2 separate regions of the Homo sapiens genome follow, and region 2 is linked to region 1. The links come from fine-mapping of genetic effects on gene expression. Tissue or cell type: whole blood. Region 1 holds a variant in brackets; the other region holds the start of a gene. All regions are shown on one strand. Distances are from middle to middle.

Region 1 (7,989 bases):
ACTGTGAGAAAATAAATTTCTGTTTCTGTAAGACACATAGTTTGTGGAACTTTGTTAAAGTAACCCTAAGAAATGAATGCAATAATCTTTGCCAGTAATATACTACATGGACCAGTCTAACTACAGTCATGTGCCATACAATGATGTTTTCAACAATGTTCTTATAAGATTATAATGAAGCTGAAAAATTCCCATTGGCTAGTGATGTCATAGCCATCCTAATGTTTTAGTGCCATGTGTGACTCATATGTTTGTGGTGATGCTGATGTAAATAAACTGGCTGCTCTAGCAGTTGTATAAAAGTCTAGCACATACAATTATGTACGGTACATCATACTTGATAAATAAATGACTGTATTAGTCCGTTCTCATGCTGCTAATAAAGACGTACCTGAGTCTGGGTAATTTATAAAGGAAAGGGGTTTACTGGACTCACAGTTCCACATGGCTGTGGAGGCCTCACAATCATGGCAGATGGTGAAGAAGAAGCCAAGGCGTGTCTTACATGGCAGAAGACGAGAGAGGTGCAGGGGAACTGCCCTTTGTACACCATCAGATCTTGTGAGACCTATTCACTATCATGAGAACATCACAGGAAAAATCTACCTGCATGATTCGATTACCTCCCACCAGGTCCCTCCCATGACAAATGGGGACTGTGGAAGCTACAGTTCAAGATGAGATTTGGGTGGGGACACAGCCAAACCATGTCAATGACTGTGTTACTGGTTTGTGTATTTAATTATGCTATACTTTTTATTATTATTTTATTGTTTTGATTTTTGTTTTTTGCGACAGGGTCTCACTCTGTGTCCCAGGCTGGAGTGCAGTGGCATGATCATGACTCGCTGCAGCCTCAAACTCCTGAGCTCAAGCAATCCTACTGCCTGGCTAATTTTTTAATTTTTGTGGAGATGGGGTCTTGCTATGTTGGCCAGGCTGATCTCCAGCTCCTGGGCTCATGCAATCATCCTATTTTAGCATCCCAAAGTGTTGGGATTACAGGCATCAATCACCGTGCCTGGCCACTATTTTAGAATGCACTTCCTCTACGTGTAAAAAAAGTTAGGTGTACAACAGCCTTAGGCAGGTCCTTTAGGAGGTATTCCAGAAAAAGGCATTGTTATCATAGGAGATGACAGCTTCATGTGTGTTATTGCCCCTGAAGACCTTTCAGTGGGAAAAGACATGGCGGTGGAAGACAGCGATAGTGATAATCCTGAACCTGTGTAGGCCTAGGCTAATGTGTGTGTTTATGTCTTAGTTTTTAACAAGAAAAGTTTGAAACATAAAAAAAAATAAACAATTTAAATATAGAAGATGACTTACAGAATAAGGATATGAGGACATGAGATATTTTTGTATAGCTGTACAATATGTTCATGTTTTAAGCTGTGTTATATAAAAGAGTCAAAAAATTAAAAAAATAAAAGTTATAGAAAGCTAAGATTGGTTTATTATAAAATTAAGAAAATAAATTTAGTGTAGTCTAAGTGTACAGTGTTTATAAAGTCTACAGTAGTGTACAGTAATGTCCTAGGCTTTCACATTCACTCAACACTCACTCACTCACTGACTCACCCAGAGCAGCTTCCAGTCCTGCAAACTCCATTCACAGTAAGTGCTCTATACAGGTGTACCACTTTTTATCTTTTATGCTGTATTTTTACTGTACCTTTCTTATATTTAGATATGTTATATACACAAATTCTTACCATTGTGTTACAATTGCCTAGAGTATTCAGTATAGTAACTTGCTGTATAGATTTGTAGCTTAGGAGTAATAGGTTGTACCATATATCCTAGGTATGTAGTAGGCTTCCCCATCTAGGTTTGTGTAAGTACATATTATGTTCATATTTCTCAGAGCATATCCCCTTTGTTAAGTGATGCATGATTGTATTGAGTCAATAATAGAGGATGTTTTCTAAAAATGGTGATTTAGGTTTTTTTTCAGATTAGAAAATAAATTGTTAGAATTTCTTAGTTTGCATTTAGCATAGAGAATCAGAGAATTTGGGTCAAATCCTTATTTAACTGATGGGGAAAGTGAAGCCTTAGGGAGGAAGGTGGCTTGCCCAAGGTTACATAGGTTATATGTGGGAGAAATAGAATCAGAACTCAGATTTCTGAATGCAAAGTTTAAAGACTTTTCCATTCCATACATTTTTCTGTTTAGCTTTAAATTATTTCTCTTTGCCTCTTTCTTCTTATCTTTGCAGTGAAATTTTAATAACATGAAATGCAGTAGGCTTAGTCAGTGGAGTATAGCATGGAGAGGAAAGGATAGTCCATACTTATGCCAAAAAATAAATTCTTTTATTATATTTGCACTAATTTTGTGAAAGTGGATTTTGGTTTTACTGGAACATTTTTGTAATCCCTCTGTCTCTAGGGGTCAGTGTGGCTTAAAGAAACTTTGTTCTACTTTGTTTCAAACTATATTCAGTTAACACTTAATTGAAGTGACTTTAATCAAAGGTGACAATAAAATGGTGCCCCAGGGGAACAGGAATTAATTCAAAATTACAACCATTATAAACTTTAACATATACAATAATATTGATGTTGGCACATGGAACTTTTCACTGAGCCCATAGGTTTTAACGACTGGAAATAATTGAACTAACTCTTATACCTTTTAGCATGTAAATTATTAATTTTTTTGTTTAAAAGATATATGACTCTATATTAGTCTGTTTTCTTGCTGCTGATAAAGACATACCTGAGACTGGGAAGAAAAAGAGATTTAATTGGACTCAACAGTTCCACATGGCTGGGGAGGCCTCAGAATTATGGTGGGAGGTGAAAGGCACTTCTTACATGGTGGCAGCAAGAGAAAATGAGGAAGCAAAAGTGGAAACCCTTGGTACCCATCAGATCTTGTGGGACTTATTCACTACCATGAGAACAGTATGGAGGAAACCACCCCCATGATTCAAATTATCTCCCACTGGGTCCCTCTCACAACACATGGGAATTATGGGAGTACAATTCAATATGAGATTTGGGTGCGGACACAGAGCCAAACCATATCAGACTCCATTCCAGATTCATTTTAGAAAGAGATGTTTGTGCTTCTTGTTTGAATGAACATTTATGACTAGTCACATTTGTTCTTCATAAAGACATTTTGAAGCAGATTATATATGATGAATATATATGATGTATGTAAGATGAATATATATATTTGTATACATATATTTCATCCTTAAGTGGCACTTAATGAAGAAGAGGCTTCGTGAGCTACTCGAGATGGAAAATTTTCATGGGAAAAAATGGAATGTCATTGAAAAGTTTGGGAAATCTTTGTGACAACTATCAACTTTCTTATCCAAAAAGCTTTCAAAACTCTTTTCCTCTCCTGTTGCCTCTTCCTCACTCTTTCCTTTCTTATCTTATTGGGATAGCGTAAGGTTGAACTGCTGACAAAATTAATAGGTTTCGTGCCATTAATAAGAACTCTCAGATGAGTTTGCCTATTGAAGTGCTTATCAATGAACACACAGTAATACTGAGACAAGGATAGGATAGGAAGGGAGACATGTTTCCTGAGTATCTCTTTGGGGCCAGGCAGCTGCTAAGTAAGAATGTGCCCCTCCCTGCCACCATCTCAACAGTTCTGCTGTTGTTTGTTCCCTTTATTGGAGTTCCATGGGCGATTTTATTTGTAGAAAGAATCCAATTGTTAAGATTCAAAAACCCTGTATAGTAATTACAGACAGTAAATTATAAGTAGAGTAAGGGTGGCTGAATAGAAGCAGCAAACATGCTTAAGGCAATGCAAAGCAGTAGCTAAATTCTGATGATAAGGCAAGAGAAAGAAAAACCAAAAGTGTGGACCAAGAACTTCATAGCAGTGTGGGGCCATTTTGTGTATGGAGAACTGACTCTGCATACTTGTATGGACATTATTACCTTTCTCATCAGTTAATATTTATTGAACTCTTAGGGTGTGCTGGGCGCTGTTGTAATTGCGGGAGATACTAAGAAATATTTAGCACAGATTCTGCCCTAAAGTTTGGTTGACGTAGAAAGAAAATGTGTCAAAAAAAATACCCAAGTTACTACAGCCTATATGATATTGGAAAGTACTAGAAAAGTTCAGAGGAAGGAGGAATTATGGAAAGTTGGATTGGTGTGGAAAGGAATCACAAGCAAGTACAACAGATACTGATAGCTTTTTATCAAAACTATTTCATCTTATCCCTGGGCCCACAACTTCCCTTGCCATCTTAGATGTGGCCACGTGAATGAGTTCTAGCTAATGGAATATTAGCCATGCCCTGTGCCATTTCCAGGCCTAATTCATGAGGTCCTCTCATGCATGTTCCTCCATACACTTTCTCTTTGTGCAGCAGTGACATTGGAAGCCAAGGGTTAAAGATAGCAGAGCCATCAGATGGAAGAGCCGGGGTGCCTGGGTTCCTGAATCACCAGTTGGAGGAGAGCCACCTGACTAAC[A/G]GGAATACCCAGTTTAGACTTTATGAGAGCAAGAAATAAACTTCAATTGTGTTAAACAGATACAGTTTGGATCTGTGTCCCCACCCAAATCTCATGGCGAATTGTAATCCCCAATGTTGGAGGTGGGACCTGGTGGAAGGTGACTGGATCATGGGGCCAGATTTCCCCCATGTGCTGCTCTAGTGATAGTAAATGCTTGAGAGATCTAGTTGTTTAAAAGTGTGTGGCACCTCCCCCATCTCTCACTTGGTCCTGCTCCTGACATGTAAGACGTGCCTGCTTCCCCTTTACCTTCCACCATGGTTAAGTTTCCTGAGGCCCCCCAGGAAGCCAAGCAGATGCCAGCATCATGCTTCCTGTACAGCTTGTGAAACCATGAGCCAATTAAACCTCTTTTCTTTATAAATTACCCAGTCTCAGTTACTTCTTTATAGCAGTGCGAGAATGGACCAATACATAAACCATTGAGATTTTGGTGTTTTTCTGTCATAGAGCTTATGTTACTTAACTAATACAGAAAGTGAGACTAGAACAGAATGTTGAAGGATATTTAGAATATAGACAGTCACAGAAAATGCTGAGGGCATCTCAGACAGGAAGAATTAGATGACCAATGTCAGGGAGAAGGAAATGCAACACAGGTGGCTGAAATGGAATATTAAAGGAAATTTGAAAGTTAGGTAGTCTCAGTTTATGGAGGCTAAGGCGTTTGCACCCAACTTTATTGCCGAGGTAAAAATTGGAAAGATAAAGGGAAATAATAATAATACTATACTTTACCAAAATAAAAGTTTATTGTTTCAGTGGTGGTGGAGGCATGTTATAGGAAGATTCATATGGAAGTGGTGTTTTGGATGGATTAGCTATTGATGAGGTAAGAGTGAAGGCAGAGATAACTTCCAGGAGAATGTTGGTGAAGACCTGAACTGGGTGATAGTGGAGGGGATAAAAGCAAAGGCTGAACATTTGAGTCTTTACTAAGTGTGAATGTGGTTGACTAACAGTGGGAGTACTGAGAAAGGAAAGAAGGAACATAACTTCCAGGTCCGTATATTAGCTCAGAACAGTGAGTGATCCTTGTAATTATGAACTTGAGGCATGAAGAAAAGAGAGTATAATGTTTATTGTTGTCTTTAAGAAAACAAGGTGGTATTATAATATGTTGTAGGAAGCTCATCATCAAACTAGTTAACATGTAAACACATCAGCATATGGCATGCACACAAATCCATCTTATCTTCCTGGGCACAAAGGAAGAGTATATTTCCCAGGTCAAAACATGTGGCTGAGTTCTAACCAGAAGAGTATGGATGGAATGCTATATACCACTACTAGGTCTGTCCATATATCCCTGGGTTTGATTCCCCGGCCTCTTGAAGGCTACATGTTTCAAATGATGAATTGCAATATGAAAGAATCCTAGATCCCTGAGTCACCACTTGAATGAGAGCTTTCCAGAATAGCTACCCAAACACATTAAACTGTGATTTGAGAAAGAAATACACTTTTAGTGCCTTAACCTCTAAGATTTTAGGGTGTATTTATTATAGTAGTATAGCTAATCTCTTTCTGAATAAAACACAACTTTCAGTTTTTCAGCAAACTTTTATTGAGAATCTAATATATTCAAAGGATGAGATATTTCTAAAAATCAGACTTTATTTATAACATCTCCTGGTGGAATATCCCTATGACAGCACTGTTCCAATGGATTTTTATCATCTTGAAATTCATAAAACTTTGAAGTCATCCATCTCCTGTTTACTCCCATCCTCCCATTATTTGAATGTTAGTTATTAAATTCTGGCCTTTGTGTCAGTTTTTAAAATAAAAATGTTGACAGCATATTTTGACTCTGCCTTTTATTAAATTACTTTTTGACAAAACTCTTAACAGATGAGAAGAGCTTGAAATAAAGAAAACTTAACTCAAAATATCTTTTCTGAGATAGCTTTGGGGGTGTTAACAGATATAGTTTAGATCTGTTTTATTTTTTCTTTATTTGACAGCCAGTCAACCTAATGATGTCATAACATCTGCCCACATACACTGGAGATTTGAGCAGAGATAAAAAACCTTGATCACCTTGGGAATTCCAGTTCTGCAACAAGAAGTTAAATAACCTGAAGATTTTACGGAAATGGATTTATATCTCCTCTCTCTGTCAGATCTATCTACCGTCACATTTGAATGTCAGAGTCTGATGTAAGCATTCCTAAAACAGTAATTTTCAACATACTCTTATATACTCATCATTATTTTTATTGAGTACTGTCTGAATAAGCAGATACCATTCTTAGGATGAAAACTGTAGGCAGACCTGATTGCTGGAAAACAGATTCTTCACCTCAGCTAATGTCATTATGCAATTCTGGAACAATTACATGTCAGTCAATTGGATAACCTAGAAGACATGAATGAATTCTTAGACACATACAACCTACCAAAACTAAATCACGAAAAAATATAAAATCTGAAGAGACCAATACTGTGTAAGAATATTGAATCAGTAGTAAAAAGTCTACCATCAAAGAAAAACTCAGGACTGGGTGGCTTCATTGCTGAATTCTACCACGCTTTTTTTTTTTTTTTGAGATGGAGTCTCACTCTGTCACCCAGGCTGGAGTGCAGTAGCACGATCCCGTCTCACTGGAATCTCTGCCTCCTGGGTTTAAGTATTCTTTGCCTCAGCCTCCTGAGTAGTTGGGATTACAGGCATGTGCCACCACACCTGGCTAATTTTTGTATTTTTAGTAGAGACGGGGTTTCACCACCTTGGCCAGGCTGGTCTTGAACTCCTCACCTCGTGATCCACCTGCCTCGGCCTCCCAAAGTGTTGGGATTACAGGTGTGAGCCACCGTGCCAGGCCGTATCAAACTTTTAAAGAGGACCTAATACTAATTCTTCTGAAACCCTTCCAAAAAAGCAAAGTAGAGGGACTACTTGCAAGTTCATTTTACAAGGCCAGAATTACTCTGATACCAAAGGTAGACAAGTACACAACAAGAAAAGAAAATTATCCTTCATGAACATAGATGCAAAGATCTTTAAAAAATATTAGCAAACTGAATTTAACAACATTTTGAAACAATCATTCACCACGATCAAGTGAGATTTATCTCTGAGATGCAGGAATGGTTCAACATATGCAAATCAATAAATGTGATCTGCTGTATTAAGAGAATGAAGAACAGAAACCATTTGATCATCATAATGGAGGCAGAAAAAGCATTTGGCATAATTCAACATCTCTTTATGATAAAAACTGTCAACAAATTAGGATAGAAGGAATGTACCTCAAAACAAAAAAGGCCGTATATGACAAACCCATAGCTAATATTATTCTGAATGGTAAAAAGTTGGAAGGTTTTCCTCTTAGATCAGGGACAAAATAAGAATGTCCACTCTTGCGCCTGCCATTGCCCAGGCTTGCTTAGGTAAACAAAGCAGCCAGGAAGCTCGAACTGGGTGGAGCCCACCACAGCTCAAGGAGGCCTGCCTGCCTCTGTAGGCTCCACCTCTGG
Region 2 (7,989 bases), 120 kb before region 1:
GTACATAGGCAGGCACTATAATGCCTATTACAGAATGCAGAAAATAAATTCCTCATTCATTCATACATTTATGCAATCAACTATGGTCATCCAAATGTACTGGTTATACTATATCAGGTCATGAAAGTCAGTGTATAAAAACGTTGCTTTTAAAAAAGTAATTAAAATTAGTCTCAATGTTGAGATCCTGTTCTTTTTCAAGAGAGAAACAAATTAGTCAATTCTACATGTATTTCTATTACCCACAAATCTCTCCTGTCTCCAAGTCATTTCTGGCTAATATCTATTCACTTCAAAATGATCTGCTTCCCCTTATTTTTCTGAGGATAACCCTAAAATTTGGGGTGGGGTTGGGTGAAGTGGGGAGGCAGGTGGCAAGAGGAAGTAGACATCAGTGCAAACACGCCTTGGCTTTGACCTCAATAGGCGATGTCTATTTTTTCTCTGCTATCAGATCAGTGCTCTGTTCATTCAGTTCTATCCTTCCCCTTTCCGACCTGTAGGCTCATCAGCCCCCTACAGCTGTCAGCTCCCTTGAATAGTCTCTAATGCCATAAATACTAAAAAAAAAAAAAAAAAAAGTTTAGGGGCATTCCTCTGGCTGAAACAGTTCAGGCTAACATCCTACTCTCTTTTGACTTATTGAGGCAAAACCCTAGACCTTGATTGCTTTTCTGATCCCCACTGGGAATAGAGCTCAGATGCCCCCAATCTCTAGATCTTCACACATGTGGGAATTGTATTATTTCTAGCTCCACAGTTTCTTTCAAAGGAATCCCAACGACTGGGTGTGTGTGGCTGGTGGGTGGGTGGGGATTTATAGGCCTTTCTTTGGGACATACACCAATATCTCTGGGGAGAGAAAATTGGTTCCCCCATCTTTGTGGCAGATTGCATTATTGTTTACAATTAACCACACAACCCCCACTCCAAAAAAATTACAATCCATGCCCATTGCCATGTGATTTGCCTATGAAAGAAGTAGACTTCTCCACTTACTTGGGGTTTGGCCATATGAAAGACCTTGGCCAATGGGATTTGAGTAGACATGTCATGAGACATTAGAGAAGCAGCTTTAAGAGGCTTCACAAGTTTCTAACAGCTTTCTGGCTCTTCCCATCTCCCTTGAGAATTGCCAAGTTCTACATAGGGGCAGCTTCTTCAGCTTGGGCACTGGATTGAGGAGACCCATGGAGCAGAACCTCAGCTGACCCAGCATGTAATACAAATAAGAAATAAACCTTTGTGGCCATCAGCCATTTTTTTTTTTTTCAACCGCAAAAGTGATGAATATATTGTTTGTGGCTTTTTTTCCTTTCACCTCATGTGCTGAAACTCATGAAGTCCAGCCAATTCTAAACTACAAACTCTGACTTATGAGACTACTGTCACTGCCATGAGCTTCAAATATCTATTACACAAGCATCAGATTTGCCTTTTCTTTCTCCCCGAGGCAGGGAAGGAAATGCCCTAGCTGTCTGAGAAGAGTATGTGAGCAGAGAACATGGAATTGTTCAGATTTTCATCCTGATGGACAAGAACACATCAAACTATCAAACATAAAACTTGAAAACTCCAAGACATTTATCCTTCCTGGACTCAAGGTATTTACAGGGCAGAGGAAATATCTCTTAAGTAATTATAATGTGGGACAACAAATAGTGTGTCATCAAGGTGTGCGGAGAAAAGTGCTGTGGGACCTCATGAAAGAAGAGGCCTGGAAGGACAGGTAGGATTTGACAATTCAAGGGGAGGGGAGAGAAAGCATTTTGTATTCAAGATGCAGACAGAGCTAAATTACAGAGGCAGGAAATGAAGGGGCATGGATGGGGGTGTGAGTGAAATGATGAGGGGAGACTGGTGGAAGGTCAGATCGGAAAGGCTCCGCAAGGCCTACTTGTGGTCCTAGATAAGGAGTGTGGACTGTGAAGTTCTAAGACTGGCTAAAGACCATATAGAAAAGGGGCTGGAGAGTGGATTTTAGCAGCATTTATTATTTTAGAAACAATATAGCCCTTTAAAATAGTGACACATAAAGTAAATGTACCTATACAGCTGGAAAAACAATTCAGGTGATGGATTACTCTCCCCAAATGGCTGGTGTACACTGTGTGTATATGTTTGTACTTCATATTCATTGTACTTATGAAGTCTTTTATGGTTTGTTGTTGTTGGTATTGGATTGGTGCATTTTTCAGCCAAAGAAACAGCCTTGATTTCCTGCAGTTGTTTCCCTACTAATAGGGCACATCTTACTATACTTAGATCTCCTTGGCATTTTAATTCGTGTTTTAAAAAATAACCACACAATAATGCAAATGTACTTAATGCCACTGAACTGTACTTTTTTTTTTTTTTTTTTTGAGACGGAGTCTCGCTCTGTCACCCAGGCTGGAGTGCAGCGGCGCGATCTCGGCTCACTGCAAGCTCCGCCTCCCGGGTTCACGCCATTCTCCTGCCTCAGCCTCCCGAGTAGCTGGGACTACAGGCGCCCACCACCACGCCTGGCTAATATTTTTGTATTTTTAGTAGAGATTGGGTTTCACCGTGTTAGCCAGGATGGTCTCGATCTCCTGACCCCGTGATCCACCCGCCTCGGCCTCCCAAAGTGTTGGGATTACAGGCGTGAGCCACCGCGCCCGGCCTGTACTCTTAAAGTAGTATATTTGTTATCGTTTGCCACACACAAAAATAATACCCCAGCAGATCTTCATACGAGTTAATTTACGCTATAAGTTTAGAGCCGGAATTTCCTCAGCTCATCACTCAGTGTTAACATTGAAGATGTCCAGGTTGGTTATGAAGGATGTGACATCCTAGCGTTGGCCACTCTTTTCCTGGTCCTTCCTGTCTTGCAGGTGAGCCTCTGGGGGTCAGGAGAAAGTCTCCTCTATCTCCTGCTCACTTTCGTGTAGGGGAGGGAAGGTGTGTGTGTGGGTGGGTGGGGGCGTTTTGTGTGAGGGAGGCCGATACTGGGCAGGCAGCCACGCTCTTCTTCCTCCATCCTGGGGCGGAAGTGGGGAGAGCAGCAGTTTAAAGGTTCTGTTGCAGCAGTTTAAAGGATCCACTCAGCCGCCTTAACCGCCAACCAGCAGGCTAAGGGAGGAACAGAATGAACAATGTTTGGATCCCAATGACTGGAGATGAAAGTTGCAAAAGCTCTGCCCAGGCTTCTACCAAGGATTAACTTTCCAGGGCATCTGCTGAACTGCTCTTCGGGGCTGTCTGCTGAGATTGGCGGCGGGACCCTCCCGCCTCTCACTCGTGCCTTTGTTCCCCACGCCGGCCTAACCCCGCGCCCCTGCGCTCGCGGCCAGGGCACCTGACCCACGCGCCGCCCGCCGGGGATGCGGGAGCCGCCACTGCTACCGCTGCCACCGCTGCCGGGCCTGCTCCGCCAAGCACATGCGCAGTGGCGACGCCGAGCCGGCGCCCTCAGTCTCCTCCTCCACCGCCTCCCGGTTCCGCAGTCACTTCCTGCAGCTGTTTCCCTGTGGGTCGGGTTGGACTGACTTTTGACAGTCAGCCTTCGGCTGCGGAGGGGGCTCGGCGGCGGCCGGCGGAGAAAGTTGCTCCGAGAAGAGGCTGGGTCGAGCTGGGCCGAGCCGGGCGCGCAGGGCGGGCGTCGCGGGCGTCCCGGGCGGACGCGGCGCGGAGACTGCCGGCGCGTCCCGGGGGTTCCGGTAAGTGCGGGCGATTGGGAGCCGCGGAGCTTTCAGGACGAGCCCCTGGAGCGCCGGGGACTAGCGGTTCCTTTCCGATGCTCTTTCCATCTGCCCTCCACGTGACAGGGCTTGCGCTGCTTCTATTTATCAGTTTGCTTGTTTCAGGCATTTCACGTGGACCAGGTGGATCATCTGTGCGTGCAGCTGCCTTGGCCCTCTCAGTTGCCCCCGCCCCGTGGGAGTCGGGGGATTCCATCCTTCGTGATGGCATCCATACCGGGTTGAGGTGCGTGTGTGGGTTCGTGTGTATGCATGCACATCTTAGGAATGTAAGGTGGATGTGGGCGACGCTGAACTGTCTGTAGCTTTGATTCAAATCTGTAAACAGTTCTCTAGGATTAGGAACCGTCACAGCGGAGACTGAAAAACATTCGCCAATTCACCAAGGCCTCTTCCCCAGTTTTCTGCGTTCTTTTGAGCCTTCTTTATAGGATACACCTTGCCTCAAGTGATTATTATTATTATTTTTTTTAACTTTTCTCCCTCTCATTCCTTCTTGCTGCGTTCTGATGACCTCTGAGTAATGCTCGCTGCCTTTCCCTCATTTCCAGAATTCCCAATTACAGACTTACCTAGTTTGCTGAGGTGCTCCTAACCTGTTCCTTTATTCTATTCTCTTTCCTCTGTAGATTTCTCCAAATGAGACAAGAGATTGTCTTTAACACAGTATGTGAAGAGTAGGCCCCAGTCCAATCATTAAAACTAAGTATGCTATGACAATTAATTTTCTTTAAACAGGGTACCTTGTGAAGCTTTGATTTTCTTTAATGTCGTCTTAGCTCCTTTCCAAACCAGGACATTAACCAGCATAAATCCTTCATTTATGCCATCGCAAGCATCAAAGTGACTGGTTTTTAAGATTTGAAGAATATTTATGCCAGTCTTCAAATTAGTCCCTTTTAAACCAATGCAACAGTTGAACAGATCTGAGTTGCATGTTTTGGGTCTCTGTATTCCATCATTCATGCATTCACTGAAGACTTGGTTTTATTCATTTTAAGATTTATATTTTATACTAATTTTTGTTTGCAAATGTACTAATATTTGATGCAATTGTCATACATAGATTTTTTTGAGGAGTCGACATTGTGTTGATTGTTAAATATAACAAGAAATAAATTTGGGATATCAAGCTACTCTTTAAAAATTGTAAAGATCAAATGTGATAATGGGTAAATCTGTGTTTGGCAAGAATTTTTTCTTTAAATCAGGTAACTGTCACCTCTGGTAGGAGGCCTTTTGTGCCTCTGTTCTTTGAGAAGGATCTTTATTTTGAGGGAAACCTGTAGATAACACTGGGGGAGACACATGCTAGAATTTCCTCAAGTGAAAGTGAGCTTTCATAAAACAAGTCCAGACATGCCTAGGCAATTGGTAGCATTTGATTTTCTGTTTATATTGCTGATTTCCTTTATCCAGAGGTTTTGACACCCCCCCCCACCTTTTCACTAATGAACTAGCAGAATGTTTGTGGCAATTTGACATCAGTAGCTTTTCAACATTATGAATTATTATTATTAGGTAGTTAAACTTTTTAAAAGCTGTTCTTTGTCTACTTAGTTCCGTTTTCTAAAATGACCATATCTGTCTTTGCTTTCTGGACTATCTTTGCTTGATTCAATTAAGAGAAATAATACCATTACAGAGAACCTGACTTTTTAAATGTTAAAACTCTATATTGCTTTTCTTTTATGTTCCCAGAGATATGGGCAGTACACTTCTGCTTAAAAATTAAATAATATTATCATTTTTCTAAATTTTGTGATTAATGAGAAGTATTGTTAAATTCTATGACTAATACTTATGCACTTTGTCCTTAACTACATTATTTTCCCATCACGCTGATTTCCTTTGTTGCCTCCCCACCCCAAATTTCGTCTGAAAGTTGTTACTTGATTTTCAGGTGCTGTGTAGTTATCAAATATGGTAAAATAGACTTTAACTTTTCAAAATTTACTTGATTCATTTTAGTAATTCTATTATTGCCATAATGTACACATTTCCATTGCAGATGGAAAATTTCAGCAGCTTAAAATAGCCATATTCTATTGACCAAGAGAAGAGGTTTTAATAATACTGTATTGAGAGAGTGGAGGGAATTGTGGATTTTGAAATAAGGATTCTAATTTGGGTTAATTAGAATCTTGGGAACTCAAAGGGTGTACTGTGGTTCATTTTGAGACACTCAGGGTTAGACGGCGCCATCTGGGGGGGAGGCAGGAGACATTATGGATAAAGATTGAAGAGGGAGAGGAACATTTTGGGTCTTTTCTGAGGGAATTATAATAGAGACTATCAGTTATTTGTTAAGAAGGAGGAGGGAAATAGCCTCAAGATTGAGGAACTGGAATTATACTGTGGCTTATGGTGGTGTGATCCATTACTCCATTGGACATTTCCTTGATACCTTATTTTGTGTAGGTAATTTACCTAGAGAAGGAGGAAAAATTTGGGTTTTACAGGGGCTGATGAATATAATCTAAGGCTGTATGAGGCAGGGCTGTAAACTCAAGAGCTCACAGAGAACAGGCAAGTAACAAGTACAGGCAGCAGCTGAGTGGGGACTGAGGTGTCCCAGAGAAGGCAGGCCTCGCTAGAGGGCACAGTGCCTCTGAGCACTAACTAGCTAATTGCGTCCCATATAGGAATGTGGGCCAAGTGATGCCAGATCATCCTTTTTCAAGAGAAGCCATGAATCTCTTGATTTTTAAATGCTAACAACTAATTCGACTTAAAAAAATGAAAACAAAACTGTATATTCCAAACAGCACATCTGTGGCTGTATGTGGCCCACAGGCTGTTTGCCACCTCTGCTATACATTTGCTCAACTACTTAAATATTGCTAGTTGATCAGAAGGAACATATTTTATTTATTTCTGTCATACTTTAGGCTACTCCTAGAGTTCCCTGAAATTTTAGCTAGTTCTATAAGTGCTTTAAGAATTCTGCAAGATGATATTCTTTTATACACTCTTTTTGATATTGGTTGGTTGGAAGATATGTTTGCTAAGATTTTTAGCTGGTGGTCTTTTTTTTTTTTGAGTCACAGTCTTGCTCTGTCACCCAGGCTGGAGTGCAATGGCACGATCTCGGCTCACGACCACCTCTGCCTCCCCGGTTCAAGCGATTCTCCTGCCTCAGCCTCCTGAGTAGCTGGGATTACAGGCACTCGCCACCACACCTGGCTAATTTTTGTATTTTTAGTAGAGACGGGGTTTCACCATGTTGTCTTGAACAGGCTGGTCTCGAACTCCTGACCTCAGGTGATCTGCCCACCTTGGCCTCCCAAAATGCTGGGATTACAGGCGTGAGCCACCACACCTGGACAGCTCGTGGTGTTTTTGTCTGTGCATGATTATCATTAAGAGTGTTTAAGTGTAAGTGTGCCTGAGGGAAGGGGTCTGGACTAGGTGACATTTGATGTCCATTTCAGCCATGTGACTTTTAGATTTAGCCGTGGATGCAATGCTGTTAATGTTCACGGGCCAAAGGGATAGCAGTTGGAACTGTGCCAAGCAAAATAAAGCCAAATCTATAAAGCCATTCTCAGTGGAAGAGCACCGTGTTAACATGAATTAACAGGCAGGGGAAGTCTGCTAAATGAGGCCAAAGGAAAGAAGTCCCAAAGATGGGTTTGGAGAAGTAGAAGAAAGGGTCAGATTATGTTGTCATTTACATGTTATCTTGCTGAAGTCTGATTTTCAAGTGAGTTTTTTTTTCTGTTTTTTTGCTGTTGATTCAGATTTGAAGACCTTGCTTCTCATCACCCACTGGATTATGCCCCAGGCTTCCCTACCCAATGATCCTCTTGCAACACGCCGTGCTTCCTCCACCTAAGCAGCCCTCACCCTCGCCTCCTATGTCAGTGGCCACCAGGTCTACAGGAACCTTGCAGCTTCCACCACAGAAGCCTTTTGGGCAGGAGGCTTCCTTGCCTCTTGCAGGGGAAGAAGAGTTATCGAAGGGAGGGGAGCAAGACTGTGCCCTGGAGGAGCTATGTAAGCCCCTGTACTGCAAACTCTGCAATGTCACCTTGAACTCTGCACAGCAAGCCCAGGCTCATTATCAGGTAAAGGGAGAAAAGAAAACCAGGCATTGAGTAGGGTGAACATTTCAGGGCTCTGGCTATTTAGCAGTTGTCTCTCCAGATATGACTGTGCCTGGAATACCAAGATGGCTTAGAGAACAACTAACTATGAATTTGTTTGATTAAAAGCCTTATGTTTTTACTTTAAAAATAAGTATCACTTTTTGTAGACTGGA

What was found. PIP is the estimated chance that this variant, and not a neighbour inherited with it, causes the effect.
Region 2: ZMAT3 starts here. The variant in region 1 is fine-mapped to the expression of ZMAT3 in whole blood (INTERVAL, PIP above 0.99).

The regions. Positions count from the first base shown.
Region 1 is chr3:178,942,335-178,950,323 of GRCh38, reverse strand. It overlaps a transcript of LOC124906307 not described here. Among named protein-coding and RNA genes, the nearest start is that of KCNMB2-AS1, 86 kb to the right of the region's middle. The variant A/G (reference allele first, on the strand shown) is at 4,465.
Region 2 is chr3:179,067,289-179,075,277 of GRCh38, reverse strand. ZMAT3 (zinc finger matrin-type 3) reads left to right here and starts at 3,469. Exons shown (of 6, transcript NM_022470.4): 1 at 3,469-3,683; 2 at 7,469-7,795. The coding sequence starts at 7,526. RefSeq lists silencers at 3,043-3,452, 3,593-3,742.